3 separate regions of the Homo sapiens genome follow, and regions 1 and 3 are each linked to region 2. The links come from fine-mapping of genetic effects on gene expression. A gene starts in region 2. Each other region holds a variant in brackets. All regions are shown on one strand. Distances are from middle to middle.

Region 1 (10,555 bases), 86 kb after region 2:
TCTCTTCTGGCCTCTAACTCTGCCATTTCTCTCTTCCTTTCTTCTGCCCCCAGCCCCATTTCCCCCTCCTGTTTCTATCCACTTCCCTCCTTCCTTCCTGTGCTCTTCTCTAGCCTTGCTTCTATCCCCAGTCCTGCCCCGTCACACTTGTTTCTCCCACCCCTCCTGGCCGGGCGCTGCTGTGAAGTCAGTGGTCCAGCCCCGATCCCACCCCCAGCACTGGAGGAGACCCAGCACGGGCCTCAGCTCATTAGCCCAGCCCTTCAAGCCTCCAGGTCGGTGCTGGGTCTGCAGGACTCTGCCAGCTGTGGTCCCCACAACCCCACCATCCTAACAGGCCCGCAGGCCACCTTCCCAGGACAACATGTCTTTGTTTTCAGTTCCTTGTCCTGGCCGCCCACTTGGGAGCAGGACTTGTGGCCCCCATACCCTGGGGCTTTTGGGAGCCAACAGGCAGTCCATCCAGGGAAGAAAAGCAAGCAAGGAAAAGTCTCGCAGGAGGCTGAGGGCCCCCTCTGGCCCAGGAGGCTGGAAGCAGTCCCTCCTGCTTATTTTTCCACATGTGGAAGGAGGGCTTTGAAATGCAGATTCCTGGCCCTGTGCTAGCTTGCTAGCTTTAGTCCTTGAAGCTATCCTCCTTTTTCTGACTACTTGTTTCTTTTTTTTTTTTTTTTTTTTTTTTTTTTTTTTGAGGCAGAGTCTTACTCTGTCGCCCAGGCTGGAGTGCATGGAGTGCATGGAGTGCAGTGGCGCAACCTCAGCCCACTGCAGCCTCTGCCTCCCGGGTTCAAGCCATTCTCCTGCCTCAGCCTCCAGAGTAGCTGAGATTACAGGTGTGCACCTCTACACCAGCTAATTTTTTGTATTTTTGGTAGAGACGGGATTTCACCGTGTTGGCCAGGCTGATCTTGAACTCCTGACCTCAGGTGATCTGTGTGCCTCGGCCTCCCAAAGTGCTGGAGTTACAGGTGTGAGCCACCCTGCCTGGCCAACCTCCTTCAACCAGAGGAACCAGCCCTCCTCTCTGTCCCCTTAGTTCTGATGACACCGTCAGTCACAGTGCTGCCCCCATGGTTGTGACCAGGACTGACCAATCATAGAACCCCATGACCTCTTGGCCTCAGAGCTTGGTTCCCAGAGGGAAGCAGGGCCATCATTTTGGCAAATGGCCCCAGGAGAAACAGGGTCTGTCTCTCTCTCTGTCTCTCTCTCTCTCTGTGGCAATTCCAGCTGTAAGAGTGTTGGCTTGGGGCTGCCAGTGGCCATCTTTCCTACTAGATACTGTCAGATCCAGCATTTTCCAGCTGCGTCACCTGGGGCAGGTTATCTAACTTTTCTGTGCCTCCATTTCCTTATCTGTAAAGTGAGAGTATTAATAGCACCTGCCTCATAGTGGTGTGCACAGAGTGGTGCCTAGCACATAGTTAACAGCTAAGTCACCATCATCATCATCACCACCACTACTACCACCTGCAGTGAGTCCAACCTTGGCAGGAGAGAATGAAACTTACACACAAGAAACAGAGACATCTGAGCTGAGAGATGGGGAAGAAGAGGAGAGATAGAAAGAGAACTGGCTGGGTGCAGTGGCTCACACCTGTAATCCCAGCACTTTGGGAGGCTGAGGCGGGCAGATCACCTGAGGAGTTCGAGACCAGCCTGGCCAACATGGTGAAACCCCATCTCTACTAAAAATAGAAAAATTAGCCAGCCATGGTGGTGCACGCCTATAATCCCAGCTACTTGGGAGGCTGAGGCACGAGAATCACTTGAACCCAGGAGGCAGAGATTGCAGTGAGCCAAGATTGAGCCACTGCACTCCAGGTTGGGCGATAGTGCGAGACTCTGTCTCAAAAAGCAAAAAACGAAAAGACAAAAGGAAAAATACAACTAGAGAACTAGAGAAGGCTCTTTGACTATATTGTTTGACCTCCTGGATCCAGGAATCCTTGAAGCCAGAGCCACCCCTGCCTTCCCAGTTTTGTGACCTAATACATTTCCTTCTTTGTGGAAGCTACTTCATGTTAGCTGTCACTTATAGCCTAAAGTGACACCAGTAGTTGTTTTAACAGTGCATAGAGGCCCAGAATGGCGGAGCTGGGTCAACACCCCCATCACACAGAACACTGAGGCCCAGAGAGGGAGAGCAGCTTGCCCAAAGTCACACAGATACAGAGGATGCGCACCTAGCTACCTGACTTCAAATGCCACACTTTAACCCTGTTTTCATGTTATAAATGGTGACATATAAAAATCAGGCCAAGCGTGGTAGCTCACACCTGTAATCCCAGCACTTTAGGAGGCCGAAGTGTGTGGATCGCTTGAGGTCAGGAGTTTGAGACCAGCCTGGCCAATGTGGCAAAACCCTGTCTCTACTAAAAATATGAAAATGAGCTGGGCGCCGTGGCGCATACCTATAATCCCAGCTACTCTGGTGGCTGAGGCAGGAGAATTGCTTGAACCCGGAAGGCGGTGGTTGCAGTGAGCCGAAATTGCACCACTGCACTCCAGCCTGGGTAAACAGCAAGACTCTGTCTAAAAAAAATAATAATAATAATTCTTCTGCTTTCCTGGTCCACTGCCATCCTCTTTGACCAGACTTAATTTATTTTTTCATATTTCCAGGCTGCTAACAGTGCTGCAGCTAACATTTATTGAGCACTTACCATGCGCCAGGCACTGAACTCAATGCTTTACACACATTTGCTCATTCATCCTCCCAACAACCCTAGGAGCCAGGGGCTACCATTAGCCCCATTTTACTAGCGAGGAAACTGAGGCACAAAAGGATGAAGTGACTTGCCCCAGGTAACTCAGGAAGAGACAGAATCAGAATTCAAATTCAGGTCATCTGACTCCCAAGTCCATGCTCTTTGCCATTGTGCTTGCTCAGAATCCAGGGCCTCATCTCTGAAGAGGCAGAGCTAGGATCTGCACCCAGGGCCACGTTTCTTTCCCAGGTCTTTCCCATGGTATTTCTGTGCCCAACATGGCAGTCACTGGCCAACCCTCCCCGTCTCACTCCTACCCTCATCATTTTCTAGAACATTTGTTATGTATAGACTCCCATTCCTAGTATCTTCAGCATTAGAGCTCTCTATGAGCCATGCCTATGGGAAACCCAGCTGTTTCAAAGCACAAGGCCATTTACTTTGCCCCCTCATTTGTCCATTACTCATTCAGCAAATATTTCTTGGTCACCTACTGAGTCCCAAACGCTTTCTATTAGTTAGGATTGGAATCAAATAGTAACAGCAAAGAATCCAAAATAATAAGACTTAAATTTAAAAAATGTATCTCTTTCTCATGTAAAGGCCAAAGATAAGCAGCCCGAGCCTGGGAGTATGACACCTTCCAGCCCACTGCTTCACCAGCTCTAGGGTGTGGGATTCCCCCTCATGGTCCAAGATGGTAGCAAGAGCACCAGCCATCACATCCAAGTTCCAGACAGTAGGATAGAGAAAGTGGGGAAGAATAAGGTGAAAGCTTCTCTGAAGTTTCTACATGATGCTTATAATTGTGTTCATGGTGAAGACCCTCTTCCTGGCTTGCAGAAGGTTGTCTTCTCACTGTGTCCTCAAGTGGCAGAGAGATCTCTCATGTCTCTTCCTATAAGGGAACCAATCCCATCATGAGAGCTCTACTCTCATGATCTAATTACCTTTCAGAGGCCTTATCTTTAAATACCATGACATTAGGGATTAGGGCTTCAACAAAGGAACTTGAGGTGGGCACAGTTCAGTCTATAGCACCAGCTGAGTAGCCTTAGATGGTACTTTAGTTTTTGTTGTTGTTGTTGTTGACTTGAAAAAACCATTTAATTCTCACAATTTTGCAGGTCAGGAGTTCAGTCAGGACACACCGGGTACAGCTTGTCTCTCCTCCCCATGATATCTGCTGGGGCTGGACTGTCCAAGATGGCATCTTCACTCCCAGGTCTGATGCGTCAGCTGCAATGGCAGGAATGGCCTTCTTAAGGTCCTGTATCTGGGGCCTCAGTTCTCACCGTTGGCTGGTTTTCATGTTTCTCCTCCAATTAGTCTCAGAGCTGCTCCCCTTCCACATGTCCTCTTCACTGGGACTCTCCTTATAGCTTGGGCTTCCCACAAACATGGTGGCTGGAGGAGGGAGAACAAGCAAAAGGAAGGAAGTGAAAGCTGTCTGATCTCTTAAGGCCTAGGCTTGGAAGTCCCAGATATCACTTTTGCCTTAATTCTAGTTCACCTTAGTTCATTTGAACCTGCATTTTCTCATCTCTAAAATAAGGCAGCAGTAACATAATGGCCACATTTCTGGATTATCATGAGGGCCAGTACTAGCTGTATCATGTACTGGGCCCTTCTTATGTACCTGTGTTTTAGATTTATTGGCTTATTTAATCCATAAGATCACCTTGGTGTGTTGAATACAGGTTTTACTGACATGTGAGAGCCAATGGTTACATTTTCATGAAATTTGCAAACAGTTGTTAAATCATTGGTAGCTTGAAGCTGGCCTTGTGGGAACATTTATACCACAGAAATTGGCAAACACACAAATCAGGGCCTTTTCTTTCCCCCAGAGACCTAGTTTTCCAGCACAGCACTGCATGCATATCTATATGTATGTGT[G/A]TATGTATGTGTGTATTCAACCCCATTTACAGATGAAGAAACTGAGGGTCATAGAGGTTGAATTATTGTGCCAAATCAACCAATTTAATAGGTGATAGATGTGACCTTAGAATCCCAAATCCCACGCCTTTAAACCACTAGGCTGTCCTGCCTCCACAGATGAAAAAATGTGTATAAAAGAGATTCGTAAACAGGCAAAGCTGTATAAATATTATTCATCTTGATACAGAAAAAAAAAGGTTTCATCTCTGTCTGTGCATTTTTCATACATTGAAGCTGCTGACAGATACTTGATTATGCCTCTCCTCCCTTCCTCCCCACCCCCACAAGTCTTCAAATCATCTTTCCCATGTAGGTGCGTTCTTCCAAAAAATTCTCCTCTCTGTTCATTTCTTCTGCTTCTCAGCATCCTACTCTCCTTCATTTCCCACCCGCTTCTGGAGCCAGCCCTCTGTTGTTTCGATGTTTCCCATTTCTCTTATTGTCCCACCCCTCATCTTGGCAGTGAGGAAGTCGGAATAGAATCCGCCTTCCCAACTTGACACTCCCACCCCCTTTATCTGAATCCAAGCAGAGAACCGTCCATGCCCAAGCACGTCCTGCAACAATTGCTACCGTTTCCCCTTCACGGTGGCAGGGAGGCGAGACAGCTCATAATCTGATCGTATTCCTTGTTCTCTGAAGCCCCAGAGAAACCACACATCCCATTTGGTGGTCGTCAGAAATAACATGCTTAAGAAACCTGGAATTATAAAACTGCTTAATTAGGGAGAGATGGTTTTGCTGGGATATGCCCAGTTTTCCTTGGTGGTTTGATCTCCTTTTCAAAGTGGCCCACCCCCGGCAGCTAATTGCTACCTTTAACGGGGTGCCACATAGGCTCTCACTCTCCTAAATTTATTTGCTGTGACATCAGTGCTTGCTTATAAAGAGATATTCTCTCTTCAGCGTTTCAACTCTCCTCCATCAGCAAACTGTAGGAAGTTGACTTGAGTAATAAGGATGGAATCTTCAGCTTCAAGAGGTCCTCCTTTGTTACATGAGCACCTACTACATGCTAGATGCTGGGAATATACCCAGAGTCAAATTATCTTCTCCCGTAAGGGGCTTACAGTCCAGTGGGAGGGATGGATAGTAAAAATAATTTTTTAATATTGTGAAAAATGCTTTGAAGGAGTGATTTAGGGGCTGGGTGTGGTGAATCATACCTGTAAACAGCACTTTGGGAGGCCGAGGCGGGTGGATCACCTGACTCAGGAGTTCGAGACCAGCCTGGGCAACATGGTGAAACCCTGTCTCTACTAAAATACAAAAAATTAGCTGGGTCTGGCAGCAGGTGCCTGTAATCCCAGCTACTCAGGAGGCTGAGGCAGGAGAATCGTTTGAATCCAGGAGGCGGAGGCTGCAGTGAGCCGAGATCATGCCACTGCACTCCAGCCTAGGCAACAGGGTGAGACTCCATCTCAAAAAAAAAAAAAAAGAAAGAAAGAAAGAAAGGAGTGATTTAGGGGAGTCTTCAAAGGTGTACATAACAGGAGCACCTGATTCAATTAAAAAGTCAGGGAAGGCTTTTCATAGGCGGTGACAGTTAGCTGAGACCCAAAAGATGAATAGATGTTAGCTCAGCAAAGAGTAGAGGGACCACTATTCCATCTGCAAAGGAAGAGCTTGGTGTCCTTAAGCAACCGAAAGACAGGGAAAGAAGCTGGTATTAGAGCCTTCTGGGAAATCCTGGGGATGTGTTAGAATCCCCATCGTGACTTATCTAGATTCTGATAGAACAGACCACAGGTCAGAAAACTACAGGCTACAGGCCAAATACGTCCTGCCACTTGTTTTTATAAATAAAGTTTTATTGGAACACAGCCACACCCATTCACTTACCTATTGTCCACAGCTATTTTCCTACTGTAGTGACAGAGGTGAGTAGTGGTGCCACAGACCGTATGGCCTGCAAAGGCTAAGTACTCACTACCTGGTTATTTGTAGAAAAAGTTTGCCAACACTTGTTCTAGAGCTGCCCAATAGCAAGTGGGAAGTTTGGGATTTGGCCCAGAAACCAGCCTGCAGCTCAGGGGCCTGAGAATTGGAAGATCCAAAGACAGTGACCAAAACTAAACCTAAGGTGGCAAGTGACAATCCTAGGTCTGATCCCAGCCTCTTTGGTTCCTGGGGCTGTGCTCTTGACCACCAAGCCAGACTGGTTGTTGAGACTGGCCTGCAAGGAAGAACAGAGAGAGGGGACCAGAGTCAGCCAGATGCCAGCAGGCAGGGGCTCCCAGAGACACAGGGACGTTTCATGGGGTAGCCGTGTCCTTACCTGTCATGAGACCAGGCAGACGAAGCAGGAGGCTGCCCACCAAGATGGCGCTCAGACCAGTGACCATCTTTTCCTTCACCTCTTGGCTCTGGAACACCCTTCCTCCCTTACCTGCCCTCATTTCTTCACCAGCTTGGCTCTTATTCATCCATTAAAGTAGTGCTTCTCAAACTTGGATGTGCACTCGGGTCACCTGGGGACCTTATTAAATTGTAGATTCTATTTCAGGAGGTCTGGGGTGAGGCCTAAGAGCCTGCATTTCTAACCAGCTCCCAGGCGATGCTGATGGTGCTGGTTCATGGCTCACACTTTGGGTGGCTGGAAAGATAACTTCTCTTAGACTTTGTTGATCAGTTTCCCCTCCACATCCCATGCCTCAATTCTGGGGCCCACTCACATTCACCTCTAGCAGAGTTCTACCACACTGTATTATAGTAGTTTGCTTAGTGATGGTCTTCCTCATTGGGTAGCAAGCTTCCTGATGAAGGGATGAGGTCTTAGTTATCTTAGTACCTCCAGAACCTGGCATTGTGTCTGGTGCATAGTAGGTGTCCAGAAATGGAAGCAAGGATGGGAGGGAAGAAGAAAGGGAGTGGGCAAGGAAGAGAGGGAGGGAGGGGCAGAGGAAAGGGAAGGAAGGCAGCATCAATGGATAAAAGGCAGGAAGGGAGGGAAGGAAGAAAGGAAATACAGATGGGTGGAAGAAAGAAAGGTAAGGAAGGAAGGAAACAAGAGTGATCTAGGGGTGCACTGAATGTAGGGAAGAGTGACAAAAGCAGGTTAAGGCCAGGCATGGTGGCTCACATCTGTAGTCCCTACAGGGGACTCAGGAAGCCAAGCTGGCAGGAGGATCACTTGAGCCCAAGAGATGGAGACCAGCCTGGGCAACATAGATAGACCCCATCTCTAAAACACACAATGTTTTAAGTGGAAAAAAAAAAAACTGCAGGTCAAGACTCGCAGTTGAGAGAGGTTGGACAGTTTAGTCCAGGGTAAGATGGAATATGCAAGAGTTGAGAGACCATGGGTGAGAGCAATTTGGGAGACATGAGGGAGGCATGGGGCAGCTGAGGGTGGGTGGTTCAGGGAATGAAAGTTCAAATCATGGATATTCTGCAGATCTTGGGGTCTGCAGCAGGATATGGACAGGCTTGGTTAGCCCTGGCCATACACTAAGTTGCTGTCCATTGGTCCAGCATCCATCATGCCCTTGTCCATGTAAAACAAACATGACGGCCACCCCCTACATCTCTGTACTCCAGTCACCCCCCATCTTCCCAAAAGTTCCAGAGGGAAACCAGCATTTCCCTCCAGGGGATGTTTCTGGGGCTCAGGGACTGGTGGGAGTCAGGAGGGGAAAGGAGGGCCCTTTGGGAAACAATGGCCTCACAACTGGAGGTGGCGAACTAGTCACAAAAATCAGGCAGGGGGTGAGTGATGATTGGATGCCCTTTCTTGGTCCTTGGTAGATGTGGGTGTACGTGCTCCAAGGAATCCTCTTCTGAGTGACATGTGCCCAGCCCATCAAGATGGAATATAAAAGTTGGCTATAAATCTCTGTCCACATGCCACGCATACGATGTAATCTTGGCTCACTTCAACCTCCACCTCCTGGGTTCAAGTGATTCTCATGTAGCTGGGATTATAGGCACGTGCCACCATACCCGGCTATTTTTTTGTATTTTTGGTAGAGACAGGGTTTCACCATGTTGGCCAGGCTGGTCTTGAACTCCTGGCCTCAAGAGATCTGTCCACCTTGGCCTCCCAAAGTGCTGGGATTACAGGTGTGAGCCACCATGCCCAGACTCATTTCCCCTCTAATTTAAACATATCACATGCTCAGTATAAAAAATCTGGAGAGAGCATAAAAACACAAAGAGAATGAGGATTTTTTTTTTTTGCATTCTCTATTATTTCCATTTGGAACAATAATATGAGCATTTGCTTGGGTCAAATGATATCTTTCATCAGGATGATTTCTTTTTTAACTTTTAATTTTGAGATAATTTTAGACTTAAAGAAAAGTTGCAAAAGTAATGCTGCGAGTTCCCATATACCCTTCATTCCTCTTCCCCTAATGTTGATATCTGATATACCAGAGTCCAATTAGCAAGGGCAGGAAATGAACATCAATACTGTTACTACTAACCTAAAGACCTCATTCACATTTTGCCAGTTGCCCCATTGACATTATTTTGTTTTTCAATTTTTATTGTTGTTTTTTTGTTTTCGAGACAGGGTCTTACTCTGTCACCCAGGCTGGAGTGCAGTGGCACAATCATAGCTCACTGCAGCCTCGAACTTCTGGGCTCAAGCAATTCTCCCACCTCAGCCTCTCAAGTAGCTGGGACCACAGGAACTCACCACCACTCCCAGATAATCTTTTAATTTTTTGTAGACACAAGATCTTGCTCTATTGCCCAGGCTGGTCTTGAACTCCTGGGCTCAAGGGATCCTCCCACCTTAGCCTCCCAAAGTGTTGGGAGTACAGGTGTCAGCCATTGCACCTGGCCTATTGACATTTTTTGCTAGTATAGGATTGAATCAGGGCTGGGCGCGGTCGCTCACACCTGTAATTTTAGCACTTTGGGAGGCTGAAGTGAAGTAGGTGGATCACCTGTGGTCAGGAATATGAGACCAGCCTGGCCAACATGGTGAAACCCCATCTCTACTAAAAATACAAAAATTAGCCGGGCATGGTGGTGTGTAATCCCAGTTACTTGAGAGCCTGAGACAGGAGAATTGCTTGAACCCAAGAGGCAGAGGTTGCAGCGAGCTGAGATTGTGCCACTGCACTCCACCCTGCCTGGGTGAAAGAGCAAGACTCCGTCTCAAAAAAAAAAAAAGAGAGAGAGAGAAAGAGAGTATAGGATTGAAACCAAGATCCCATGTTACATTATTTGTCACGTCTCCTTAATTCTCTCCAACCTCACACTCCTTGGTCTTCCCTTTGTCTTTCATGATCTTGACATTTTTGAAGAGTGTTGGGCCCCTTCAACTTGGGGCCAGGTGCAATGGCTCATGCCTATAATCCCAGCACTTTGGGAGCCTGAGGTAGGAGGATCCCTTGAGCCCAGGAGTTTGAGACCAGCCTGGACAACACAGCATGACCTCGTCTCTCTACAAAAAAAAAAAAGAGAGAGAGAGAGATAATATCCTTCAACTTGGATATGTCTCTTGTTTTCTCATGATTAGATTAGAATTTATTGCTGAGTTTTGGTGAGAATACCACAGAAGTGATACTGTGTCTTTTCAGGACATCATGTCAGAGGGTTCAGGATGTCAAAATGACTTCTCACTGGGGATGTTAACCTTGATCACCTGATTAATATGATGTATGTTTCCTTTCTTCACCATAAAGTTGCTATTTCTTCAGGGTACATTTTTAATGGCTGTATGGCTTTCCATTATAGATCTCTAACATAATCAGACCCTCTTTTTTGTACATTGTGTTTTTTACTTTTTTTTTTTTAGTATTACAAAGAATGCTGTAGTGACCATTCCTATAGGCACATCTTTGCACCTATCTCTGATTATTTTGTTAGGGTAAATTGCCAGACATAGAATTGTTAGAGTAAAGATTATACATATTTTTACAGATATGGATGCTTGGGGCAGTGTTGTT
Region 2 (10,161 bases):
TCCAGCCTGGGTAACAGAGTGAGACTCCATGTTAAAAAAGGTTAAGATGGGAAATTCTGGCCAGGCGTGGTGGCTCACACCTGTAATCCCAGCACTTTGGGAGGCTGAGGTGGGTGGATCACCTGAGGTCGGGAGTTCAAGACCAGCCATGACCAACATGGAGAAACCCCGTTTCTACTAAAAATACAAAATTAGCTGGGCATGGTGGCGCATGCCTGTAATCCCAGCTACTCAAGAAGGCTGAGGCAGGAGAATCATTTGAACCCGGGAGGTGGAGGCTGTGGTGAGTTGAGGTCGTCCCACTGCACTCCAGCCTGGGCAAGAGCAAAACTCAGTCTTTAAAAAAAAAAAAAAAAAAAAAAAAAAAAGATGGGAAATTTTATGTCGTATTTTACCACAATAAAAAAAAATTGAAAAAAAAAAAAGATATCAACTAGGCAATTGGATATAAGAATTTGGGGATTTCTGGACAGATCTAGGCTGTTGTTATCAACTACTGGCATCAACAGCATACCTCCAGAGATCACCTGAGTATTTAAACAATGGCCCAGAGATTACCTGAGTCAGATAGAGAGGAAGGCAGAGGACGGAGTCCTGGCGCACCCCACCACTCAGGGGTCACAAGACAGAGAAGGGACAACACGCGACTGTGAGGAGGTGTCTGAGGTGGCAGAAAACACAAGTCACAGAAGTCTGGTAGTCACATGATTGCCCAGACATCCCGGCCAATAAAAGGGACTTACAACACTCAGCCTCTCTGTTTGCCTAAGGTGGCAGGTCACGTACAATTCCCTATTCTTCCCTTTTCACAGCTCCCCTGCCAATCCACTAAATGTAGAGTGACCACATAGTTTTATCAATGTTCTATTCACTTATATATTTTATTTACACACTTGAGCTTTGAGAGTAAAAAGGAGAGCTTTTTATAACCATGTCAGGACAACAGCATAACCCATTATCCTGGGTGCACCCTGGGGTGTAACCACCCTTTCTACACAACTAAGCACTCAACCTGGACTTCTAGACAAACTTATTAATGCTTTGGGTAAGATTTCCCCACCCGTGCTCCTTGCTGTTTCTCCCAGAAATTCTCACATGGAAGAAAAATGAAAGGGTGCAGTGTGTTGGAGGGGTGGAATTCTACCAATCAAGTTATGCACAAAAAGCATAAAAGGAACTGTGGGTCCTTTTGAGTCACCCAGGAGGACACAGAGCCCCCAAATTAAACGAAGGGCACCCATGCGAGGGCTGGCCGACCCTCGCCACCTATGTCTTGGTTTCCCCCACTGTAATACTGGGAACCCCACTTCTCCCAGGCCTGCTGCGAAGATGAAGCCAGCAAATGCACGCCCTCTCTTAGCTCTGGACCGGGCAGGTGAAAAGCAGGGAGGTGTTCATAAAAGCAGTCCCCACCGCTGAAGGGTCCTCAACTCGGGGTTCTAGTCCCAGCTCTGCCCTGGCCTAGCAACCCCTTCCCGCTGCAGGGACCAAGGCGGTGGGCAGGTCCCTCACCCGTGCTGAGACCGGGACAGGAATGCGCACCTCTCCCCACCCTCGGACGCCCCGGCGGCGCCGCTGCAGAAGTCGGGAGGTCGGACAAACGCGAGGAGTAAGGAAAAAGAGGAGGAAGGGAAGGAAGGAGGAAGAACGAAGTGAGGAAAGAGGATGTCAGGGAAGAAAGGGAGTAAAGGAAGAAGGAAGGGAGAGGGGGACAGAAAGGAGGAGGACGGAAGGAGGAAGGGAAGGAAGAAAGACGGAAGGGAAGGGAGAGGAAAAAGGGGAGGAAAGAAGAAAGGGAAGGGGGAGGAAGGAAAGGGGGAGGAAGGAAGGAGGAGGAAGGTGAGGAAGGTAAGGAAGGAAGGGAGGCAGGGAGAGGGGAAGGAAGGAGGAAGATAAGGAAGGAGGGGAGGTAGGAAGAAGGGAAGGAAGGAGGAAGGAAGGGAAGGGGAGAAAGAAAGGAAGGGAAGGGGTAGGAAGACAGGGAGGAAGGAAAAAAGGAGGAAGGTAACGAAGGAAGGAAGGAGAAAGTAAAGTAAGGGGGAGGAAGGAAGGAAGAAGGGAAGGGGAGGAGGGGAAGGGCGGCCACTGACCTGCTTGAAGGTGCTGCTGAGGAAGTAGACGAGCGACAGCCCGAAGACCAGGGCGAGCACCCACCTCTTCCGCAGAAGCCGGCGCCACACCATGGCCGCCAGGTTCACCATCCCGGCGCGGACGTGGGGCGCGGCGGCCGGGGCGCGGAACGCGGCAGGCCCGGGTCCCGGGCGGCATGGCCCCTACGCGCCCGGCAGCCCCATCCCTCCAGGCAGGCGCCGGCCCCGCCGCCCGCAGCCCAGTCTGCTCCCGGCAGCCTTGGGCGCAGCCCCACGTGACCCCGCCCTACGCCCCGCCTCCGCTCCGCAGCGACAAGGGCTAGTCGCGCAAGATCTTCTCACCATTGGTCCCTAAGGAACGGCGGCCTCCTATTGGTTAAGTGCCGGGAAAGGGGGCGGACAATCGCGTGAGTGCTGCGGGCGTAGCTGTGCCCGGGTCCTAGCGCCGGACCCGGCGACGCCAAGAAACCACCCAATAGGAGGCCGGAAGCATCGGAAGTCACATGCTGCCCAGGCTGCGCGGGTGATTGGCTTGGCTGGACCTGAATGATGCGGCTGTGATTGCTGAATTGTCTGGGCAGGTAAAAAGAGAACGCGATTTTTTTTTCTTTTCTCCCATCATGGTCTGTGTAGTCTCCTGCCCTTGCAGTCCCAGAGCGTTTTGCGCTGTGTGTTGGTTGCAGGGATGAAAAGCGCTCGCGACGTTGTTCCCGAAGTGCACCTGCCGGCTTCCAGTCCAAGTGATGCAGGCGATGCTCCTCTGAGTGCATTTCGGTGCAGTCCTGTAACGGGCCCCAGGGGCGCAACTTGAACCATCGCAAGCATCGAAAAGTCTCGGTGCGGTCCTTCAAAGGGACATAGTGGGATGTACAGAGCAGAGGATTAAAAAGCGTTTCATTCATTCAGATGCATCCCGCGTGCAAAAATTTATTCCAGAATTATGTACGGCCTGCTTCCGACAAAGAATCCGAAGCCTCTTCCAATACAAGCATCCGAAAGTAGAGTTTCGAGCATTCGATTTAGGAGTTAAATGTGTGGATGAGAACTTTGGAATATGAATTTTATTTTCCCCCAAGGATTTGCAATGTGGGATAATGGAGGGAGGGGCGAGAGGAGGATTAAGTTGAGATTGCAAATTCTTGAAAAATATTTATATAATGACCTTTTCTTGATATATGAAGATGCTGCTGCTGACCGGTTTGTTACCTAATTTTTCAAAAGAGAAAGGAGGCTTCACTGGCGGGTCATTTTTAATCAGTGGCCCTAGTGACACCATTGCTGCCCCCTCAAGAAGCCTGGTCAGGATTAGGAAGTCATTCAACAGCCAATAATCGTGCCCTAAACTGAAGTCAGACACCATCTGACTGATATAGACACCCTATATCCACAATATTGGCTCTGCCTCCAGAGACAAGAAGATATTCACGGAGGCTAAACCTTTTCATGGGAAGTAGATGGCCCTTATTACCTTGCTAGGGTGAAAGGTGGGACAGGGAGCAAGGGATCTAGAAAAGGGGAACTGGGAGACCCATAGATGTTTTATTCATTGAGTAAATACTTGTTGAGCGCCACTCTGTGCCAAACAGTGTCCTGGATGCTGAGGCAGAGGGGTGATCCAAGTAGACAGGATCCCTACTTTCAGGAATGGCATTTATATTCTAATGGGGAGGACAAATCATAAATAAATAAGCAAACATGAACAAATAAGTGCTATGAATAATATAAAACAGGGCAATATTACGGGGAGTCAGGAGAATGAGAAGAGAAGGCCTCTGGGAAGAGACGACATTTGCCCTGCGGGACCAAGCCCTGCCACATTTAGAGGAGAAAGTATTCCAAGGGGAGGGCACAGCAAGTGCAAAGGCCCTGAGGCAGGGACACGCTGACACATTAGAGGAACAGAAGGGCCACTGTGGGTGGACAGGAGTGGGAAAAGGGAGAATGGGAGGAAATGCAGTTGGAAACAGATGATGCTACATCAGGAAGAACCCGTAGGCTATGGACAGAGCTCGGGTTTGATTCTGATTGCACTGGGCAGCCGTTGGAGGGTTTAAAACATATTTTCTGGCTTCCCCAATCAGGACTCTTAGTTTGACAATAGGATGAAATACAATACCTTAAGAGTTTCAAAGAGGGCCGGGCATGGTGGCTTATGCCTGTAATCCCAGCACTTTGGGAGGCCAAGGCAGGCGGATCACTTGAGGTCAGAAGTTTGAGACCAGCCTGGCCAATATGGTGAAATCCCATCTCTACTAAAAATACAAAAATTGGGTGGGCGTGGTGTCGCATGCCTGTAAGCCTGTAATTTCAGCCACTCAGGAGGCTGAGGCAGGAGAATCGCTTGAACCTGGGAGGCAGAGGTTGCAGTGAGCCAAGATCGCACCACTCCGTCTTAAAAAAAAAAAAGGAGTTTCAAGGGGGGATCACTGAGAGGCTACCCAGAGATACTGAGCAGATGGAATCATCTGCTTATAGCTACCAACAATGTCCTAAGGCTTCTTAGCAGATTCAAGGTATCGCAGGGACTGTTCATCCAGGTGTTCTGTTCCATCCAGGTTTGGAGTCTCTGGCAAGCTCCCCTGACTGTGCATCCCTCTGGAGACGAAGAGGAGGGGGAGGCCTGTCCTCTCTGGGATCCATTGGTCACATCCCCCTGAGGATTCCCGAATGCCTACCTCCAGTGTCGTCAACATGGAGTTCTGAAGTCCATGTGGCTCTTCACAGTGAATCAGGTGACACGTCTCCAAGAGAATTTGCATCTTTATTACTACTTGATTAAATGTGAGAGCTGGAAGGAAGTTTTGGTTTGACCACTCCACCCCTCCCATGTAACACATGGGGAATCTGAACCCACAGAGGGGTTACTGATTTGTCTAGGGTCACAGCAAGTTAGCAGCAGCATCAACCCAGAATCCATGTCTCCTGCCAGTCCGCTGCCCACTTCACTTCATCCAGCACCTCTTGGCTGCACAGTTTACCGCGTTATCCTCTCACATGAGGACTTTCTCCACCTCTGAGTCTCATCGTCCTCCTCTGTGAAATGGGGTGATAGCTTTCCTCATGGGATAGAATGTCACATTGAGGATGGAATGGCATGAAAGATTGAAACATACTTTGGAAAATGCCAGAGAGCACTAGGGGTCTAAGATACGACTAGTGCAGGTTTGCAGTTTACAATTACCTTGGCAATCTGACAGGCAGTGGGAGTGTTGGGAGACTCTGGCTCACCCATGTGTTGGGTTTTAGGTGTTAAGGAAGATGCAGAGACGCCACAGCAGCAACACGGATAACATTCCACCTGAAAGGTAGGCATCCCTGCTTCTGTTCCATCTGAGGGCTCTAGGCTTCGGGTGGTGAGGGGCAACCCAAAACTGGATTGAACAATACCTCACCCTCAGCGTTAGTTGTTAGAGTCACACTGATGGCCTCATACTAAACATTCAACGCATAATAGCTTGCTCTTTCTTTTATGCTAAATTTCAAAGTCCTGTGTGATAGGTGAGCCACCTGACTCATTGTATCAATGAATGTACCTGTGGAATTTTGATTTATAGAGATGTCTTAGTCCATACAGGCTGCTATCACAAAAATATCATAGAATGGGTGGTTTAAACAACAAATGTTTATCTCTCACAGTGCTGGAAGCTAGGAAGTCCAAGATGAAAGCTCCAGCATATTCAGTGTCTGCGAAAGGCCCACTTTCTGGTTCACTGATGGCCATTCTTTTGCTATGTCTTAATGTGGTGAAGGGAAAGGGATCTCTCTGGGTCTCCTTTTTAAGGGCACTAATCCCATTCGTGAAGAGCCCATCTCATCACCTAATCATTCCCAAAGGCCCACCTTCCAATACGATCAAATTACAGGTTAGGTTTCTTTTTTGAGAGAGAGTCTTGCTCTGTTACCCAGGCTGGAGTGCAGTGGTGATCATGGCTCACTATAGCCTCCAAATCCTAGGCTCAAGCAATCCTCCTGCCTCAGCCTCCTGAGTAGCTGGGACTACAGGCATGTGCCACCATACCTAGCTAATTTTTAAAATTTTTTGGTAGAGACGGGGTCTCACTAAGTTGTCCAGACTGGCCTCAAACTCCTGGGCTCAAGCGATCTTCCTACCTTGATCTCTCAAAGCCCTGGGATTATAGGTGTGAACCACTGCACCTGGCATGGGTTAGGTTTCAACATAAGAATCTACACAAACATTGAGATCATAGCTCTGAGAAACAACACGGAGAGGCTAATGACATTGAAAGATGAGATTTTTATTTCTTCCATTTCTCAAGATGAAGGGGCATACTACTGCTTGCAGGGCCACCTGGGGAAGCACCAGCAATAGTCAGAGGGCAGAAAGGACCGAGGAAAAAGCATAGGCCACAGCCTTTATTGTGTTTTCTGGGGGAAAGAAAGGCAAGGCAGGGGCAATAGTTTAGGACTGGCTAGTTTGAATCATGTTGGTGGGCTCTGGGGTACCGAGGTGGTTTCTTTTTTTTTTTTTTTTTTTTGAGATAGGATCTCCCTCTGTTGCCCAGGCTAGAATGCAGTGGCACGATCTCGGCTCACTGCAGCCTCGACCTCTCAGGCTCAAGCAATCCTCCTACCTCTCAGCCTTCCGAGTAGCTGGGACTAAAGGCATGCACCACCATGCCCGGCTAATTTTTGTATTTGTAGGGACAGGGTTTTGTTATGTTTCCCAGGCTAGTCTCAAACTCCCGGGCTCAAGCGATCTGTCCGACTTGGCCGCCCAAGCTCCTGCTCGCTGGGATTATAAGCGCAAGCCACCACGCCTGGCCTCAAGGTGCTCTTTAGTTTGGTGTCTGGCCCTAGATGATTTAGGACAGGAGAAATATTGGCTGCGTGTGTAAAACTTAGATGAAGGAAGGGCCATGCAGTGACTCACGCCTGTAATCCCAACACTTTGGGAGACCAAGGTGGGAGGATAACCTGAGTCCAGGAGTTAGTTGGAGACCAGCCTAGGTGACATGAGGAGATCCTGTCTCTACTAAAAAACTTTAAAACTAGCCACGTATGGTGGTGCATACCTATAGTCTCAGCACTTTGGGAAGCCAAGGTGAGAGGATTGCTTGAGCCCAGAAGTTTGAGATCAGCCTGGGCAAAATAGGGAGACCCTATCTCTACAAAAAATAAAAACTTACCCAGCATGGTGGCATGCATCTGTGGTCCTAGTTATGCAGGAGGCAGAGGTGGGAGGATTGCTTGAGCCCAGGAGGTGGAGGTTGCAGTGAGCTATGATTGCACCACTGCATTCCAGCCTGGGCAACAGAGTGAGACCCTATCTCAAAAAAAAAAAAAAAAAAAAAAAAAAGGTTAAATGAAGCAGTGGTTGGGGTTATGGGCTCTGGATCACAAGGACATGTAAATAACTTTGGCCGTTAGTTTGGCCCTGTGATTAATAGATACCAGGTAGAATCTAAAAAAAAAAAAAAAAAAAAAAAAAAAAAAACCGGTTAAAAAACACTCATGAGCTAGAATTTTTTTTTTTTGAGATGGAGTCTTGCTCTGTCACCAAGGCTGGAGTGCAGTAGTACAATCTCAGCTCACTACAACTTCCGCCTCCTGGGTTCAAGCTACTCTCATGCCTCTGTCTCCCGAGTAGTTGGGACCATAGGCACGCACCACCACGTTTGGCTAATTTTTTTGTATTTTAGTAGAGATGGGGTTTCACCATGTTGGCTAGGCTGGTCTCGAACTCCTGAGCTTGGGCAGTCTGCCCACCTCAGCCTCCCAAGGGGCTGGGATTACAGGCATGAGCCACTGCACCCAGCCTAGAATTTATATCTATTGAAACCCAAGAGGGAACACACCTGGGGGCCTGTTCTCAGATTGGGACAGCCTCCAGCCCCAGAAGCCCTGTCCTAGCACATACATCCAAGGGGCGGGCAGCCAAGCCTTCCCTTCCTCACATCCCATACCCCCTGCGACTCTGGGGTTGGCTACAGAATCACAAATGGTATCCCCCGGTCCCAGCACTGGGACTGAGTTTTGTATGGTGCCTGCCTGTTCTGCAGGGAAGAACACGGGGCTCAGCCAAACCCCAGCTCAGCCACTTCCCACCTGTGGTGACTTTGATACATGACTTCACCCCTAGGTCTCAGCTTCTCCATCCAAAAATGGCAGGTAACAGAACTCAAGAGTTGCTTATGGGCCAGGCATGGTGGCTTATGCCTGTAATCCCAGCACTTTGCGGGGGTAAGGCAGGCTGATCACCTGAGATCAGGAGTTTGAGACCAGCCTGGCCAACATGCTGAAACCCCATCTCTACTAAAAATACAAAAATTAGCCAGTGTGGTGGCAGATGCCTGTAGTCCCAGCTACCCAGGAGGCTGAGGAAGGAGAACCACTTGAACCCTGGAGGTGGAGGCTGCAACGAGCAGAGATCATGCGACTGCACTCTAGCCTGGGTGACAGAGTGAGACTCCTCCTCAAAAAAAAAAAAAAAAAAGAGTTGTTTATGGATGAAGGAGTGAGTGTGAAGATGCAGAAACAGCATCCGGCTTGTAATAAGCCTGCCTGTTGGAACCTTTTCCGCCTCTAAAGACAACATTGTCATCTGCTCTCAAGTGAACCATGAGATCTCTTGCGGGCAGAGAGCACAGCAGGAAACTCAAACCGTGTATTGAGTGCTTATGCTGTGCCAACCGCCACATTAGCCCAGTGAGAGCACCCATTTTACAAATGCAGAAGCTGAGGCTCAGAGAGGGGAAGGAAATTACCTAAAGTCACACAGCCAGGAAGTAGCAGGGCTGAGATTTGGGCCCCCATCCCTGTGTCCCCCAGCACCTGTGCTTTGAGATAGCACATTTTGGCTGCCTAGTGTCTGAGCAGAACCACTTTTCCTCCTGGGTTGCCTCAAGCTCTGGCGCTTAAGTGGTTAAGTTGGAAGCACAGCCTCTGTCCCCCTAAGGAATATTCTTTCCCAGTCAGGCTGAAATCTCGGCTGGATGCAGGGGAGAGGCCCAGGGAAGGGAGGCCAGCTATAAAAAGCCCCTTGGTGAGTTGAGTCTTCCCTGGTTGTACTGGAGGCCCCTGAGCCCAGTGAACTCAGAGTGCTGGCAAGCTCAAGGGGGACAGGATGGCTTTCTAGGGCCCCTTGGGTGGCCACGGAGAGAGAGTGGCCTCCTCATGGACCAACATGGGTACCTGCCAGGGCTCTTGCTTTCTGAGCTGAGCTCTTTGAAGTGCAGAAAAAGCTCAAGGCCCCTTGAGGATCATAGCCATGGTGTTTGCTGTTGTTGTCATTATTAATATTATCATTATTATTATCCAGAGCCCAGTGGAGGAGGAGCGCATATTTCCTGGGCTTTTGGAGCCAGCAGGGGTGGGGCTTGGTGAGGGAGGGAATCCAATCGTGAGTTTCCTCCATTGCACCAGATTTTTTTTTTTTTTTTTTTGAGATAGAGTCTCACTGTGTTGCCCAGGCTGGAGTGCAGTGGCACAATCTCAGCTCACTGCAACCTTTGCCTCCCCGGTTCAAGCGATTCTCCTGCCGCAGCCTCCTGAGTAGCTAGGATTATAGGCATGCACCACCATGCCCGGCTAATTTTTGTATTTTTAGTAGAGAGGGTTTTTTGCCATATTGGCCAGGCTGGTCTCAAACTCCTGGCCTCAAGTGATTCTCCCACCTCAGCCTCCCGAAGTGCTGGGATTACATGTGTGAGCCACCACACCCAGCCTGCTTCAAACTCCTGACCTCAAGTGATCTGCCCACCTCAGCCTCCCAAAGTGCTGGGATTATAGGCATGAGCCACCATGCCTGGCCTCACTAGGTTTTTAGTAACATACCTGCAGGCCCAGTTTGTGCAGCCAGGGAAACCACCGTGTCCCACTGCTGTGTGTCACAGGTGTTCTGCAAGCTGTTAAATGGTTTTTCATGGATAAAAAGAATTCTGTGGTCAAATAAGTTTGGGGAACACTGGGCTTAAGCAAAGTCCATTATTTCACTTGCAGGCCTTCTCAGAGCGTTTAGTATGCCTGTTCATGTATTCTTTCAAACACTTTTTATTAAGCATGTTCTGAGTGCCAGGTGCATTGTGCCGGGTGGTAAAGATACAGTGGGGAG
Region 3 (10,555 bases), 110 kb after region 2:
GTGGCTCATAACTGCCTGTTCTCCTCCTCACCTGCATTCATCCACCTGGACCCAGGCCTGGCTGCTTCCTGCTTTCTCGGCTCACGCTGAACACCAAGTGCTAGGTCCAGAAATGCCCCTCTCCCACTCAAAGCCTCTTCTCTCACATTGGGGCTGGCTCTTGTGATTGTAGGCTCTTGTCCCAAGCCCCACCTGCCTGCTCTGGATCTTTGGGCAAGACCTGGATAGAATTTGGGGTGAGGGTGAGGTGACTGGTTTAACCCCAATTCTGTGCTTCGGGAGGCACGACCAGGGGGCAGTTAACAATCCAAGGCCAGCTGGGCACAGTGGCTTGCACCTGTAATCCCAGCATTTTGGGAGGCTGAGGCGATTGGATCCCTTGAGCCCAGGAGTTTGAGACCAGCCTGGCCAACATAGCAAGACCCCAACTCTACAAAAAATACAAAAATTAGCTGGGTGCCATGGTGCCTGCCTGTAGTCGAGCTACTCAGGAGGCTGAGGTGGGAGGATCACTCGAGCCCCAAAAGGTCGAGGCTGCAGTGAGCCTTAATCACACCACTGCACTCCAGCCCAGGTGATAGAGTGTGACTGTGTCTCAAAAAAAAAAAAAAAAAAAAAAACCCCAAGAAACAAACAAACAAAAAAACAATCCAGGGCCACCTGCCTTCCCCACTGCCCATCAATCCACCCGATCCTATCCTTCCCAGCTGAGAAAGGGCTCCTTCTTCCTCCCCCTTCCTCTGTAGACGTTCATCCCTTTCTCCACATGCTGGAGGCAGTCCACAGCCGTGAACTCCTCAGCTGGGCCCTGGGGTAAACCTGGTTTTTTGAACCTTTTCATTTGACACCAGATTCTGTCCTCCCATTTCTCTGAGGAAGGGATTGTGAGCTCCCGGAGGGCAGGGACCAGTCCTTCATCACCCTAGTATCGCCAGACTTTCCTGTTTGGTCATTTGTCATCTGCATTCCCATTCATTTGTCCTCTCCATTGACAGAGCCCCTACTCTGTACCAGCTCAGGGCTGGACAGTAGGAGTACGATAACAACATGGCTGCCCTCATGGCGTTTACCACCTAGAGGGCAGGGCAGATGTTGACTAAGCATTTAGAACAGTGGTTCCCAAAGTGTGGCCAGGGTACCCCTGGGGGTTCCTTTCAGGGGGTCTGTGAGGTCAAAACCATTTATATAATAATACTAAGACATTATTGGCCTTTTCACTCTGGTTCTTTCATGAGTATACAGTGGAGTTTTCCAGAGGCTGCATCGCCTGCGAGGAGGTCATCACTCTGGTGGCTCATGAATATGTGCTTGTGTATTATGGGTTTTTTTTTTGTTTTGTTTCATTTTGTTTTTCAGACAGAGTCTCACCCTGTAGCCCAGGCTGGAATGTAGTGGCACGATCTTAGCTCACTGCAACCTCCACCTCCCAGGTCACGGTTCAAGCAATTCTCCTGCCTCAGCCTCCCGAGTAGCTGGGATTACAGGCACACGCCACCATGCCCAGCTGATTTGTGTATTTTTAGTGGAGACAGGCTTTCGCCATGTTGGCCAGGCTGGTCTTCAACTCCTGACCTCGTGATCTGCCCACCTTGGCCTCCCAAAGTGTTGGGATTACAGGCGTGAGCTACCGTGCCTGGCCATTATGTTTTAAATATGTCTCCGTTTCTATTTCTAAATATTTCTAATATTTCTAAATTTGTAAATATAGACAAATTTAAACCACATAGACAAAAGCTCTTTGAGGTCTTCAGTGTTTTTAAAAAATATAAAGGGGTCTTAGCACCAGAATATCTGAGAACTATTAAATTAGAAGTGTGAGAGCCTCAGTGAATGTGTTGAATGAATGAGTGAAAAAACTGCTAAATTTCATGGCTATTTCCCATTCACTTAACCAAGTCTATGTGAACAGGGGTTGTGTTGCATTCTCCTATGTAAGTACCTCTTTTGTCCAGGGTAGCATAGTTAAGTCCCATTTGGTTGGTCAATAGATATTTACTGAGCATCTGAGCAAGAACCGTACTCAGCATAAAACCAGGTTCTGCCCTCAGAAAGCTCTCAATCCAGTGGCTGGGCATGGTGGCTCACACCTATAATCCCAGCACTTTGAGAGGCCAAGGTGGGAGGATCACATGAAGCCAGGAGTTTGAGACCAGCCTGGGCAACAAAGTGAGACTCCATTTCCACAAAAAAATTAAAAAATTAGCCAGGCATGGTGGCACGTGCCTATAGTTGTAGCTACTTGGGAGATTGAAGCAGGAGGGTCACTCAAGCCCAGGAGATCAAGGCTGCTGTGAGCTGTGATCGCACCACTGCACTCAAGCCTGGATGACAGAGCAAGACCCGGTTTCAAAAAAAAAAAAAAAATATATATATATATATAGAGAGAGAGAGAGAGAGAGAGCTCTTAATCTAGTGAACAATCAGATGAATTTGCAAATAATTCCTCATGCAATGCTTTGAGAGGGGTTTTCACCAGGAAGAATGGCATAGGAGAGAAGACGCGATCAGTACTTACATTTGCAGGAGACAGTAACAGGATGGAATCGGGGCAACATCATAAAACAGGGGAGACATGATTGCTTGGCTGAGTCTTCCAAAAGAACTGGGCATGCACCCAGCTGGTCAAGATGGAGAAAGGGCATCCCAGAGTGATACTAAAGTTGGTTGGAAGGCTGTGAATAAGCCATGGGTTGAAGGTCATGTGGCACGTCAATGACATCAGTTACTCCAGGGTGTGAGGATGGGGCTGGACGGGAGACGGGCCATCATAGAGGGTAATGGGTGCCATAGTGGGAATCTGTAGAAGCTGCAGGGCTTGCTGACCCCTGGGTCCTGCCCTCCAGACCATGATGAGAATCCAGTATGGTCTTCGCGGCTCTGTGTGGACTTCTCTCCTTTCCCCAATCCCTCTCTCCCCTGCACCCCCAACTACAGCCACATCAGCTATCTTCAAGTGCCTCAAACATCTTCCTATCTCAGGAGCTTTGCACAGGAGACTTCCTTCAGCCTGGAATGTTCTATCTCTATCCCATCCCCTCTCTTCTGCCCAGTTAACTGCCAAATGTTCTTCAGGCTTCGACTCAAGTGTCCCCACCTCCAGGAAACCTTCCTTGACTACCCCTTGGATCAAACTGGTCCCTCTGTCACACACCTCCATAATACCATGGAAATCTCCTTCAGAGCACTGTCTACAATTAGGCACCCACTGTACACCATGCTAGGAATGAAGGGGTTTACAAGAAGCTTACAGCCTGGTATGGAGAGACAGATAATAAACTGTAAACACATAAGATAATAATCATTATTACTATCATAATAGCTAATAGTTATAGAGCACTTACTATTTGCCAGTCATTATTCCAAGTGCCTTCTTTTTTATATTATTGTTATTTTTTTAGACAAGGTCTCACTCTGTCTCCCAGGCTGGAGTGAAGTGGCATGATCATAGCTCATACAGCCTCAACCTCCTGGGCTCAAGCAATCCTCCCACCACTTCAGCCTCCCAAGTAGCTGGGACGGCACATGCCACCATGCCCAGCTAATTTTTTTTTTTTGTAGAGACATATGGGGCATGGGGGTGGAGGAAGTCTCGCCATGTTGCCCAGGCTGGTCTCAAACTCCTGGCCTCGAGCCATCCTCCTGCCTTCGCCTCCCAAAGTGCTGGGGTTATAGGCATGAGCCACTGTGCCCAGTTTCTTTTTTGTGGTTTTGCTTTTAAAAAAACATTTTGTTTAGATTTTTTTATTATTATTTCCTCAAATGTTTCATTTTGAAAAATTTCAAACCTGCAGGAAAGTTGCATGAAACTCTTCTATTCTTCATCCAGATTTACTGATCATTAACATTTTACATTTGCCCTTTTTTTGACATCAATTTTTTTTTCCCTAAACCAGTTAAGAGTAAGTGGTAGACATTTAGATTCTTCATCCCTAAATACTTCAGTGTGCATCTCCCAGGAACAAGGACATACTCTCAGATAATCACAATTCCACTAGCATGCCCAGGATTTTTTTTTTTTTTTTTTTTTGAGATGGAATCTAGCTCACTCTGTTGCCCAGGCTGGAGTGCAGTGGCGCGATCTTGGCTCACTGCAACCTCTGCCCCCTGGGTTCAAACGATTCTCCTGCCTTAGCCTTCCAAGTAGCTGGGACTATAGGCGTGTGCCACCATGCCTGGCTAATTTTTGTATTTTTAGTAGAGACGGGATTTCACCATGTTGGCCAGGCTGGTCTGAAACTCCTGACCTCAGTGATCCCCCCGCCTCAGCCTACCAAAGTGCTAGCATTACAGGTGTAAGCCACTGTGCCTGGCCACCCAGGAAATTTTAAATTAATGTGACATATTATTTAATATATGGTACATATTCAGATGTCTCCAGTTGCCTTCAAAGTGCCCTTTATAGCTGGCATTTTTTTTGCCACCCCTGGGACCAATCAAGACTCATGTGCTGCATTTGGTTGTCATAGCTAAGTACTTTTAACATGTTAATTAATCTTCCAATGAGGGGGTTCTATCCCCATTTTACAGATGGGGGAACTGAGGCACAGACAGGTTGCATTACTTGTCCAAGTTATACAGCCAGAGAACGGTGGAACCCATTGGTCTTTCCAATCTCCCTGCCTTTCTCTCTCTCTCTCTTTTTTTTTTTTGAGGCAGAGTTTTGCTCTCGTTGCCCAGGCTGGAACACAATGGCACGATCTCAGCTCACCGCAACCTCTGCCTCCAGGGTTCAAGTGATTCTCCTGCCTCAGCTTCCCGAGTAGCTGGGATTACAGGCATGTACCACCACGCCTGGCTAATTTTGTATTTTTAGTAGAGATGGGGTTTCTCCATGTTGGTCAGGCTGGTCTCAAACTCCTGACCTCGGGTGATCCGCCCACCTCAGCCTCCCAAACTGCTGGGATTACAGGTGTGAGCCACCGCGCCTGGCCCTCTCTCTTTTTTAAAAAATTTAATTTAATTTTAAGTTCCAGGATGCATGTGCAGGATATACAGGTTTGTTACATAGGTAAACGTGTGCCATGGTGGTTTGCTGCACCTATCAACCCATCACCTAGGTATTAAGCCCCACATGCATTAGCAATTTATCCTGATGTTCTCCCTCCCCCAGCCCCCGCAACAGGCCCCAGTATGTTGTTCCCCTCCCTGTATCCATGTGTTCTCATTGTTCAGCTCTGATTTATGAGTGAGAACATGTGGTGTTTGGTTTTCTGTTCCTGTGTTAGTTTGCTGAGGATAATGGCTTCCAGCTCCACCCATGTCCCTGCAAAGGACATGATCTCGTTCCTTTTTATGGCTGCATAGTATTCCATGGTGTATATGTACCACATTTTCTCTATCCAGTCTATCATTGATAAGCATTTGGGTTGATTCCATGTCTTTGCTATTGTGAATAGTGCTGCAGTGAACGTATGCGTGCATGTATCTGTTTATCGTAGCACTAGTTACCTGCCTTTCCTCTTGACCCTTGTGTTCTATTCTCAACCTAGAAGGCGGAGGGATCGCTTTAAACTGCAAATCATATCAGGTCACTCCTCTGCTCCAAGCCCTACCATGGGCCCCTTACTTCTCTCAGAATAAGAGCCAAAGACCTCACAATGGCCCACAAGTACCTACACCATATGCACCCCTCACCCTCCATCACTTCTGTGACCTCATCTCCCTCTCCCATCCACCCCAACAACCCCAGCCCAGCTATCCTCTCCTTCCTGTTCCTCCCGCACATCAAACACAGTCCAGCCTCAGGGCCTTTGCACATTGCTGTTGCTGCTAGAAGTGCTTTTCCCCAAGATCTCATCAGGGCTCACTCCTCACTGTCCTGCAAGTTTTACCCAAATGTCAGTATCTCCGTAAAGTTGTCCTTAACGTCCCAACCCGCCCAAGCCCTCCCTGTTCCTTCTCCCTCCTGCTTTTTGTTTGTTTGTTTTTTGTTTTTTTGTTTTTAGACAGATTCTTGCTCTGTCACCTAGGCTGGAGTGCAGTGGCACAAACTCAGCTCACTGCAACCTCTGCCTCCGGGTTCAAACGATTCTCTTGCCTCAGCCTCCCGAGTAGCTGGGACTACAGGCGCCCACCACCACGCCCGGCTAATTTTTGTATTTTTTAGTAGAGACTGGTTTTCACCATGTTGGCCAGGGTGGTCTCAAACTCCTGCCTCAGGTGATCCGCCCATCTCGGCCTCCCAAAGTGCTGGGATTACAGTCCTGAGCCACCACACCTGTCCCCTCCCCTGCTGTTTCATCTTGGTGCTTCCTACTGATAACTCAGTATTTTGGAGTCGCATTGTCTCCCCAACGCGAGTGCAGGCGCCCCGAAGGCAGGGGTTGTCTGTCTAGTCCGCTGCCCCTTCTCCTGCTCCCGAGACCGAGGCAGACGCTCAGTAAAGAGTCCTGGTGCCTGCTGATTGCTGTC[C/T]CCGCAGCACGTGTTCTGTGAGGAGTGCCTCTGCCTGTGGCTGGACCGTGAGCGCACCTGCCCGCTCTGCCGCTCGGTCGCCGTGGACACCCTGCGCTGCTGGAAGGACGGCGCCACGTCCGCACACTTCCAGGTGTACTAGGACCGAACACTGAGGACACCCAGAAGGACGCCAAGGGTCAGCATGCCCGGACCCAGCCCTGCGGGGGCTTCCTGAGAAACAGGCCTCAAGCACTTACATCCTGCCTCTTGCCCTCCACCACCTCTGACCCCAAAGTCCCGCCCCTGTCTTGTCCTTCTGACCTTCATCTTCCTCTCTCGTTCTGTGGTATAGTGCGTGCCTCCTTCCCCTGCAAAAGGGGACGTCTTCCTAACTCAGACTTGATGCCCTTCTAGATGCATCTTCCTTCTCCACTCCAAGTCAAGGACCTGGCAATACATGAAGTTCCCACTTGTTGGTTATTTTCTCTTTCTTTTTTCTTTTCTTTTCTTTCTCTCTCTCTCTGTTTCCCTCCCTCCCTCCTTCCTTCCTTCCTTCCTTTTTTTTTTTTTTTTAAAACAAGGTCTCGCTCTATCACCCAGGCTGGAGTGCAGTGGCACAATCTCGGCTCGCTGCAACCTCCACCTCCTGGGTTCAAGCGATTCTCCTGCCTCAGCCTCCCGAGTAGCTGGGATTACAGGCACCCACCAACACACTTGGCTAATTTTTGTATTTTTTAGTAGAGACAGGGTTTTGCCATGTTGGCCAGGCTGGTCTCCAACTCTTGACCTCAAATGATCAGCTCGCCTCAGCCTCACGAAGTGCTGGGATTACAGGCATGAGCCACCGTGCCCAGGCTCACTTTTTTTTTTTTTTTTTTTTTTTTGAGACAGGGTCTGGGTCTTCACCCAGGCTGGAGTGCAGTTGGCACAATCACAGCTCACTGCAACCTTGAACTCCTGGGCCCAAGCCATCCTCCCGCCTCAGCCTCCCAAGTAGCTGGGACTACAGGTGTGTGCCACCAGGCCTGGCTAATTTTTTTTTTTTTTTAATTTTTAGTAGAGGCGAGGACTTATTATGTTGTCCAGGGTGTTCTCAAACTCCTGGGCTCAAGCAATCCTCCTGTCCTGGCCTCGCAAAGTGCTGAGTGCTGGAATTACAGGTATGAGCCCCTGTGCCCAGCCCACCTGCTGGTTATTTTAACTTAGTACCTAGTACCTAGGACTTGATGGTGCAGGCTGGGGAGGAGCCTAGAGATCACTGCCTCCCAGATAGCCCAGGCCTGCAGATTAGAATCCCTGTGAGCCCTGTGAAGTATTTTTTCTTTTCTTTTCTTTTTTTTTTTTTTTTTGTTGTTGTGAGACAGAGTCTTGCTCTGTTGCCCAGGCTGGAGTGCAATAGCACGATCTTGGCTCACTGCAACCTCCGCCTCCCGGGTTCAAGTGATTCTCCTGCCTCAGCCTCCCGAGTAGTTGGGACAACAGATGCGTGCCACCATGCCCAGCTAATTTTTTTTTTGTATTTTTAGTAGAGATGGGGTTTCACCACGTTGGCCAGGCTGGCCTCAAACTCCTGACCTCAAGTGATCCACCTGCCTCAGCCTCCCAGAGTGCTGGGATTACAGGCATGAGCCACCACACCTGGCCCAAAGTATTTTCAAAATACAGTTGTTGGGCCCCACCATATACCTGTAATGACTTAAGGTCCCAAATACTTCATGCGCAGCAGGCAAAGCATGCAGCATCCTGCTTGGATTACGTGCTGTCATCCTCACAACAGCCCTGTGATGGGGGAGGTACTGTTGGGTCCCCTGTTTTATAGATGAGGAAACTTGGGCACAGAGCTTGGTGCGGTAACTTTCCCAGGGTCACCCAGCCAGCATGGGCGGGCCAAGTTTCCAACAGAGGCCTGGTACAGTTTCAGAACCCACATCTAAAAAAAAATAAATTTATTAGAGATGAGGTTTCTAATAAAAATCCAGGTTGTCCAGGCTAGATTCAAACTCCTGGGCTCAAGTGATCCTCCCTCCTCAGCCTCCCAAGCAGCTGCAACTACAGGCACACTCCGCTATCCCCAGCAGAGCCCGCACTCTTAACCTCCGCACTGCTCTGCCCCTCAGACATTCCAGGCATGGGGCCCAGCAGACACGGTCTTCTAAAAGCACACGAGAGGCCGGGTGTGGTGGCCCATGCCTGTAGTGCCAGCATTTTGGGAGGCTGAAGCAGGCGGGTCACCTGAGGTCAAGAGTTCAAGACTAGCCTGGCCAACATGGCAAAACCCCCTCTTTACTAAAAAATACAAAAATTAGCCGGGCGCGGTGGCGGGTGCCTGTAATCCCAGCTACTCAGGAGGCTAAGGCAGGGAGAACTGCTTGAACTCGGGAGGTGAAAGTTGCAGTGAGCCGAGATTGCACCACAGCACTCCAACCTGGGTGACAGAGTGAGTGAGACTCTGTCTAAAAAAAAAAAGAAAGAAAGAAGGGAGGGAGGGAGGAAGGAAGGAAGGAAGGAAAGAAAGAAAGGTCAGCTTTGGCCCAGATGTGGTTACCCCTTGGTCTCCTGTCTTTATGTCTTTCTCCTCTTCCTATTCTGTCATCTCCCTCACTTAAGTCTCAGGCCTGTCAGCAGCTCCTGTGGACATTGCCATCCCCTCTGGTAGCCTTCAGAGCAAACAGGACAACCTATGTTATGGATGTTTCCACCAACCAGGGTAGTGGCATGGAGCACCGTAACCATCTGTGCTTCTGTGATCTCTATGACAGAGCCACTTCTCCACCTCTGAAATGTTCCCTGCTCTGAAATCTGGCATGAGATGGCACAGGTGACCACGCAGAAGCCACCAGAATCTTGCCTGCCCTATTCCTCCTCCCAAGTCTGTTCTCTTATTGTCAACCTCAGCACAACAGGCTGGCGCCAATGGCATTACAGAGAAAGCAATCTGTGTGGCTAGTGGGCAGATTACCATGCAAGCCCCAGGAGAAATGGAGGAGCTTTGTAGCCACCTCGCTGTCAGCCAGTATTAACATGTCCCCTTCCCCCTGCCCCGCCGTAGATTCAGGACATTTGCCCCTGTGTGCCACCAAACCAGGACTTTCCCCTTGGCTTGGCATCCCTGGCTCTCTCCTGGTACCCAGCAAGACGTCTGTTCCAGGGCAGTGTAGCATCTTTCAAGCTCCGTTACTATGGCGATGGCCATGATGTTACAATCCCACTTGCCTGAATAATCAAGTGGGAAGGGGAAGCAGAGGGAAATGGGGCCATGTGAATGCAGCTGCTCTGTTCTCCCTACCCTGAGGAAAAACCAAAGGGAAGCAACAGGAACTTCTGCAACTGGTTTTTATCGGAAAGATCATCCTGCCTGCAGATGCTGTTGAAGGGGCACAAGAAATTGGAGCTGGAGAAGATTGATGAAAGTGCAGGTGTGTAAGGAAATAGAACAGTCTGCTGGGAGTCAGACCTGGAATTCTGATTCCAAACTCTTTATTACTTTGGGAAGTCACTCAGCCTCCCTGTAGCCATCTCCAGGGTGACGGAACCCAGTGTATTACCTGCTGGAACCAAGGAAACTAACAATGTAGGTTACTAGTGAATACCCCAATGGTTTCTCCAATTATGCCCATGCCACCAAAACAATAAAACAAAATTCTCTAACACTGCAAAGAGTGAGCCATGCCTGTTAACACTGTAAAGAATGTAACATGTGGGGGACACACAGGGGCAGATGGGATGGTTTAGTTTAGGATTTTATTAGTGCATGCCCTACCCTCTGGGGGAACGTCCCATCTGAGGTTTTCTTCTCGGTGGGGGGATTTAACTTCTGTCCTAGGGAAAACAGTGTCTGATGAGGAGTGTTTCCAACACAGGCTACATGAATTCCCCTATACCAGTGCGAAAGCAGCCAGGAGTCCCCGTTGGAAAAGAACAATGCCACTCTCTTTTATGTATCTTGGTTCTGCAACTCATTTGTTGTAAGTAGGGTTAATCGAGTATCAGGTTCACAGTATCCTGCCCTTATTATTTTATGATTCACTGACTCAAGTTCCACGAAGTCCTTAGAAATGGACCTCTTCATGTAAAATATCTTGAGAATAATAAATGTGAGGGAATAAGAAAGGCAAGCTTTGGACACAGATATGATAGGTGCATCAGCTTCGGAAGAGAAGAA

The links.
Region 1: its variant is fine-mapped to the expression of RNFT2 in whole blood (TOPMed, PIP 0.96).
Region 3: its variant is fine-mapped to the expression of RNFT2 in cerebellar hemisphere (GTEx, PIP 0.98).

What each region holds. Positions count from the first base shown.
Region 1 is chr12:116,821,145-116,831,699 of GRCh38, forward strand. The region is part of intron 7 of RNFT2 (ring finger protein, transmembrane 2); the gene reads left to right. Among named protein-coding and RNA genes, the nearest start is that of HRK, 55 kb to the right of the region's middle. The variant G/A (reference allele first, on the strand shown) is at 4,611.
Region 2 is chr12:116,735,700-116,745,860 of GRCh38, forward strand. It overlaps RNFT2 (ring finger protein, transmembrane 2), which reads left to right and starts at 2,616. Exons shown (of 11, transcript NM_001382266.1): 1 at 2,616-2,671; 2 at 4,646-4,822; 3 at 5,337-5,395. The coding sequence starts at 4,799. It overlaps SPRING1 (SREBF pathway regulator in golgi 1), which reads right to left and starts at 2,370. Exons shown (of 5, transcript NM_024738.4): 1 at 2,091-2,370. The coding sequence starts at 2,201. RefSeq lists enhancers at 912-1,870, 2,639-2,898 and silencers at 2,059-2,108, 2,189-2,448.
Region 3 is chr12:116,842,896-116,853,450 of GRCh38, forward strand. It overlaps RNFT2 (ring finger protein, transmembrane 2), which reads left to right. Exons shown (of 11, transcript NM_001382266.1): 11 at 6,419-10,555. The coding sequence ends at 6,553. Among named protein-coding and RNA genes, the nearest start is that of HRK, 33 kb to the right of the region's middle. The variant C/T (reference allele first, on the strand shown) is at 6,412.